2 separate regions of the Homo sapiens genome follow, and region 2 is linked to region 1. Evidence: fine-mapped expression QTL. A gene starts in region 1. The other region holds a variant in brackets. All regions are shown on one strand. Distances are between the middles of the regions.

Evidence for each region. PIP is the estimated chance that this variant, and not a neighbour inherited with it, causes the effect. A credible set is the group of variants that fine-mapping cannot tell apart.
Region 2: its variant is the best candidate, but not a certain one, in a credible set for the expression of MAT2A in whole blood (TOPMed, PIP 0.68).

Annotation. Positions count from the first base shown.
Region 1 is chr2:85,537,820-85,540,723 of GRCh38, forward strand. It overlaps MAT2A (methionine adenosyltransferase 2A), which reads left to right and starts at 1,349. Exons shown (of 9, transcript NM_005911.6): 1 at 1,349-1,559. The coding sequence starts at 1,469. PARTICL (promoter of MAT2A antisense radiation-induced circulating long non-coding RNA) reads right to left here and starts at 1,067. Exons shown (of 1, transcript NR_038942.1): 1 at 1-1,067. RefSeq lists enhancers at 267-356, 757-966, 1,037-1,126 and silencers at 1,157-1,426, 1,607-1,936.
Region 2 is chr2:85,499,824-85,502,727 of GRCh38, forward strand. No RefSeq gene overlaps it. Among named protein-coding and RNA genes, the nearest start is that of PARTICL, 38 kb to the right of the region's middle. The variant A/T (reference allele first, on the strand shown) is at 1,749.

The DNA of each region.
Region 1 (2,904 bases):
CACCTTGTTCTACTGCCGCCAGCAGTAGGCAGCTGGAGACTGTTACTAGGGGTCTCCTTCACCTCCCCAGCGTAAAGTACATCCCATGCTAGGAGCAGGCCGTTCCCTGAGAACCTCATTAAACCCGGCGTTCTTGTCACGCGCTCCGCTCAGGGCCACCAGGCCACCAGCCCGACCAGACCTGCACCGAGGCCCAGCCCCAGAACAGGCTGCAGAGACCCCCGCCCCCAAGGCGGGCTCCCTCCAAACGGGACTCCATACTCCTTGCTGGCTCAAGTTTTGTTTCGCTCTTTTTCCCTGTAATTCCTTTATTGGGCAAAACTGGGACAAACGCAGGTGGACATTTTAAAGTGAAAGCTTCATGAAACAGCCCATTCCACGCCGTCAAGAGATCTGCTTAAGCACATTCAAGGGAACGAATAGCCCCCACCCACCAAAAAAGAAATGTTCGTTCCATATTCTCCTGAACAGAGGATTGAAACATCGATTCCCCCCCCCTTCAAAGGAACAGGAAGGCCACGGGGCAAGGACGGACTTGGGAGCGGCCTCCTTTCTCTCTGGAGGGAAAGGCTGGAGCGCTGCCTCCACTTTTAAGTCCACGAACCACGAAGGGTGAGGATCCCTCAGAAACTTTAGCGCAGGGGAGCGGGCAGGAGGGCGATTGTTTAAATCGATGGCAGCACCTTCATTAATCTGCTTTCCGGCCATCTTCAGCAGAGCCATTCACCAGGAAACGACTAGAAGGTGGGCCTGCGCCCCTCAGATATCCCGGGGCCGGCAACGAGCCGGGCAGGGACGCCGAAGGAAGGCCGTGAGGAGCCCTCGCTGGCCGGCCAAGATGGCCACCTTCACATGGCCGACCGCCACCGGCTCCCTGCCACCCGGCATCTAGAGGCGGGACGGCCAGAAAGACCCCAGCCGCAGCACAAAACCTCCGCGATTCCCGCCGCCTCCGCTGGGGGACGCGACCTCCGGGAAAGCTATCCCGGCCAACGGTCGGAAGGGAGGTGCCATGTCACCGCACAGGGGAGCGGGTCCAGCAAGCCCCAGTCGCTTTTTCTCCCACATCAAACAAGGAAGAGCAATCCCCCACGTCTCCTCGCGTCTGCATTTTTCTCCTAGCTCTAGCGGCTCAAGATAGCTGAACGGTCTCTGGAGGGCCGGATTGCCACGGCACCTCCCGCGGCCGCGCAGTGTGGTTCAGCCCGGACTCCGCGGGGCGAGCTGCCCTTCCTCCCCCGACCCCCGCGCAAGTGGTGCATTGGCGCGCGGCGCCGAGGGGCGGGGCCCGAGCCGGGCGCGCGCGGGCGCTGCTCTATAAATACCGGGCCGCACCGCCCGCTGCTTCGTTCGCTCCGCGCCGCCCGCCTGCTACGAGTAGAACGCTGTCCGCAGCTTGCGCATTTCGCAGCCGCTGCCGCCTCGCCGCTGCTCCTTCGTAAGGCCACTTCCGCACACCGACACCAACATGAACGGACAGCTCAACGGCTTCCACGAGGCGTTCATCGAGGAGGGCACATTCCTTTTCACCTCAGAGTCGGTCGGGGAAGGCCACCCAGGTGAGGGGACGGCCTGAAGCGAAGCGTGGGGCGGGGCAGAAGGCAGCGCCAAGGTCCGGCTGGCTGCGGCCGGCCGGTGGTGGGGCCCGCGCGGGTCGTCCTCGTCCGCCGGGTGATGGAAGAGCGGCGACCGCGCGCTTTCCTCGTGGCGCCGCCAGGGCCTGGCGCGTGGCCGCCGCTCCTCTTCCCCCTCCCCTCTCCACCCTTCCCTTCCCCCCTCCCTTTTCATTCGGTCGCGCGCCTAGGCATGCGGAAGGTTCCAGAAAACGTGAAGGGCGGGGGCTGTGGTCGCTAGTGAGTTCTGGCCGGGAAGGGAGGGCACTGTTAACCCCTCCCGGCCCTGCCGTCTGACAAACCTGGAGTGGGCGACCCGCCCCGCGTGCTCGCGTCCGGCCCTCGGGAGCGCGCGCCCCGCATTGCAGCGGCGACCACGTGTTTGCCGCATGTGGTATCTGGGCGAGGGGGAGCCGTGAGCCTCCCCGGCTGTCCTGGCCCTCAGTTTGAGGGGTGGGGGGCCTATGCCTTGGGACGTCGTCTGGCTCCACTGCCTCAGTGGTTAGGTCTTGACTACACACTGGAGAATACGCACATGCCCTTCGGCGGATATGGCCTTGCCTCCAAGGTGACGGCCTCTGACTAAATATAGCTCATGTCCAAGAAGGCAGTCCTTATTTGGACCCCTTGTGAAAAGGATGGGAAGCATGAATTAGGAGCTGCCATTGCTTTGGGTTCGCATTTAAAGTCTTCGGTGCAGGGTTTTACTTGAGGCTTTGTCCGCTCAACCGCCATTATGGGGATCAATTGGCACGTGAAGGAGGAGTAAAGCTATATTTCCAGGAACTGAAAATCTCAGCCTGAGCATATCGGCTAGTAAAGATGATTATTTGGCTCTTTTGGCTGTTTCTGCCCTTAGGATGACCGCAGTAGTTATCTATCTGGTGGCTTTAGGGTCTGGTCAGTTTACTGTGCCCATGATGAAATCCCACAAGTAACTTAGTGGTATGAGAGGACAAACCCAGGATCTTGATGAGTGCTGAAGGTTAGCTGTTACACCAGTTAGTAGTAGACCGAAGTTCAGAGCCTGCAGTCTGGCTTCCACATTATGTTTGGATTCTGTTTTAGGCGGTTATAGAAAATTCAGAAAAACGAACTTGAATTAGGGAGATATTTGTTCTCCCTCCTAACAATAGATGACAAAGCAGGGAGACATGGATTCGGAATACGTTTGAGCATCTTCTACACTGTTGAGCTTTTGTTTCCTGCGCAACTCCTAACAGCAAAATCAGATAATTGCCATTTTAGTCAGAAAATGCTTTTCATTTAATTGTTTAATCGAATTATCTTG
Region 2 (2,904 bases), 38 kb before region 1:
AATACAAAAATTAGCCAGGCGTGGTGGCAGGCGCCTGTAATCCCAGCTACTTGGGAGGCTGAGGCAGGAGAATCACTTGAACCCAAGAGGAGGAGGTTGCAGTGAGCCGAGATCGTGCCATTGCACTCCAGCCTGGGCAACAAAGCAAGACTCTATCTGAAAAAATAAAACAAAAACAAAACGTGTAAGAGGAAAGGTCTCATACTTACTAATATAAACGAATTGAGAACCAAATGCTCCATTCGCCTGTCCTGCTGCTCTGGAGATATCACCTCTCCCCTACTGCTTTTGAGGCCCAGGTTTTCAGTTATTCCCAGTCTTCTTTGTCCTGTCGTCCTTGCCTTCCCTCAAGCACTCATGACCAAAGAATAAGTAGGCCAAATAGATAACGTTCTTTAAAAAGAGTACAGAGTTCCTGACCTATTCATCTCCACTTTCCAAATACCTTTTGGCTTCAGCTTATCTCATTTTTGCAGCTTTAGCACCGAATGAAAACTGTGCATGAAGGAGCAGGCAGGTTCTCGCTTTGTGAAGCGTCTCCTTGTGCCTCGAGCTGGGGGAAGGGCTAGAATTGCAGTAACAGCAAGAGCACCCAAGAAATCGGTCTCAGTTTCCTTCCCCATTTTCAGAGGACAGTGGAGATCTCAAACAAAGCCAGCTAGGCACAGATTTCTTTAGAGCTTTGGGTTCTTTCCTCTACCAAACATTTTAAATTGTCATGTAAATTATACATTTGTCAGCTTTATCCTTTATGGCTTTTGGTTTTTCAGTCTTGCTTGGAAAGAAGTTTCCTAATCCCAAGACTTAGTTCTTCTTTATTTATTTCTGGTACTTTCATGTTGCTTAACTCTTCAATCCATTTGAAATTTATTCTGGGACTCTCCCCCAAATTAATGGCTTAATCCCTCTAATAGCATTTCTCCACTTCTTTGAAATGCCCCCTTTAAGAAGAAAATATTCTTCTATTCCCATAGTTGTTTCTGAATTGGATTCTGTTCCATTGATTTATTCCACTGATTCAGGGTCAGCACCACATTGTTTTTATTCTTATAGCTTCAAGGTATCTTTTGATATCTAAAAGGACATCCTCTTGTTTTTCTGATTTTCCAAATTTTTCTTGGTTGTTTTATACTTTAGTTTTGCAACCTAGAGCAAGTTATATAAGTCTGTGTCTATTTTCTCACCTGAAAAGGTTAAGATTGTGGGCTCTGCAGCCATATTGTCTGGGTACAAGTAAGGGTCCACCCAGGGAAACAGAGTCTTCTAGGTCTCTCTGGCAGAAGGAATTTAATACAGGGAATTGGCAGCACTGGAAATGGAAGGACTGAGAAGTCTAATGGAAGCACAAGACGCTACTATACAGGGAGTTACGTAGGAGGAGGTAGTGCAGCTAGAGCCCAGAGTGGGGGCCATCTGGTGGGATCTGAAACCCCATAGAGGCTGCCTGATGGGAGCTGAGATCATGGAGGGAGGGCCTGTAGAGTAGATGTGAGAGCCACCTAAGGACATAACTGTTGCCAGAGACACTACAGGAAGAAGAGAAAGAGAGAGAGATACCTTGGCTTCTCTCCACCTCCTCCCTCTCTCCCAGCTTTCCATTGGCTGAACCAACCTGGAAGCCAGAGAGCAAGGGAGCCTGGGAAACGCAGTTCTCTGTGATATAGCACAAAGGCTCAGAAAGGCAGAGAATTACTCCGAGAGGAAAAGGCAGTTGACCACAGCCGTTTATTAGTTGTGTGACCTTGAGG[A/T]AGTTAGTTAACCTCAGTTGCCTTAGCTTCCTCCTCCAAAAAGTGGAGATGAATAATAGTAGTACTTTCCTCACAAGGCCACTGCGAGGATTAAATGCATTAGTACGTGTTACATATTTTGTATTATTTAACTTAGTAAGTGTTATTTATTATTATTGTATAAAATGAAGATAGCAATACCTATCTTGCAGAGTACTATAAGATGTTTGCCGGCCAGGCGTGGTGGCTCATGCCTGTAGTCCCAACACTTTGTGAGGTCAAGACAGGAGGATCACTTGAGGCCAGGAGTTTAAGACTAGCCTGGGCAACACAGTGAGACCCAGTCCCTACAAACAAATTTAAAACTGGGGCAAGGGGGAGGGTTTCAAATTTAAAAAAATTTAAAATTAGCCTTGGCCGGGCATGGTGGCTCATGCCTCCCAGCTACCTGGGAGGCCGAGGCAGGCCAATCACCTGAGGTCGGAAGTTCGAGACCAGCTTGACCAATATGGAGAAACCTCATCTCTACTAAAACTACAAAATTAGCTGGGCATGGTGGTTCATGGCTGTAATCTCAGCTACTTGGGAGGCTGAGGCAGGAGAATCGCTTGAACCCGGGAGGTGGAGGTTGCAGTGAGCTGAGATCGCACCATTGCACTCCAGCCTGGGCAACAAGAGTGAAACTCCGTTTCAAAAAAAAAAAAATCAGCCATGCATGGTGATGCATGCCTGTAGTCCTAGTTACTCAGGAGGCTGAGATGGGAGGATCACTTGGGCCTAGGAGTTCGAGGCTGCTGTGAGCCCTGATTGCACCACTGCACTCCATCCTGGCTGCCCAAAAAGAAAGGTTTGCACCGTGTTGTGCACATAGTACTGGGTACTTCATAAATGTTAGTCCCCCTTGTAGCCCAGTGTGCTCACTAATATCTGTAGCCGATAATAACAATGGCTTTGACCTGGGGAGGAAGCAGCCTCCCCAGAGTAGGGAGGGACATTCTTCTTGCATTACCAGAGATCTAGGAGGACTCTGGAGGGCTGGGACTTCAGTAGTCCAGGCAGTGCACACCCCTACATCAGCCAATATGAACACACAGAGATGCATTTGGAGTAACATCTGCATTCTTTTCTGGACCTTCTCTTCTTGATCCCATTGGTGTCCCTTCTTTGATTTTAGCCT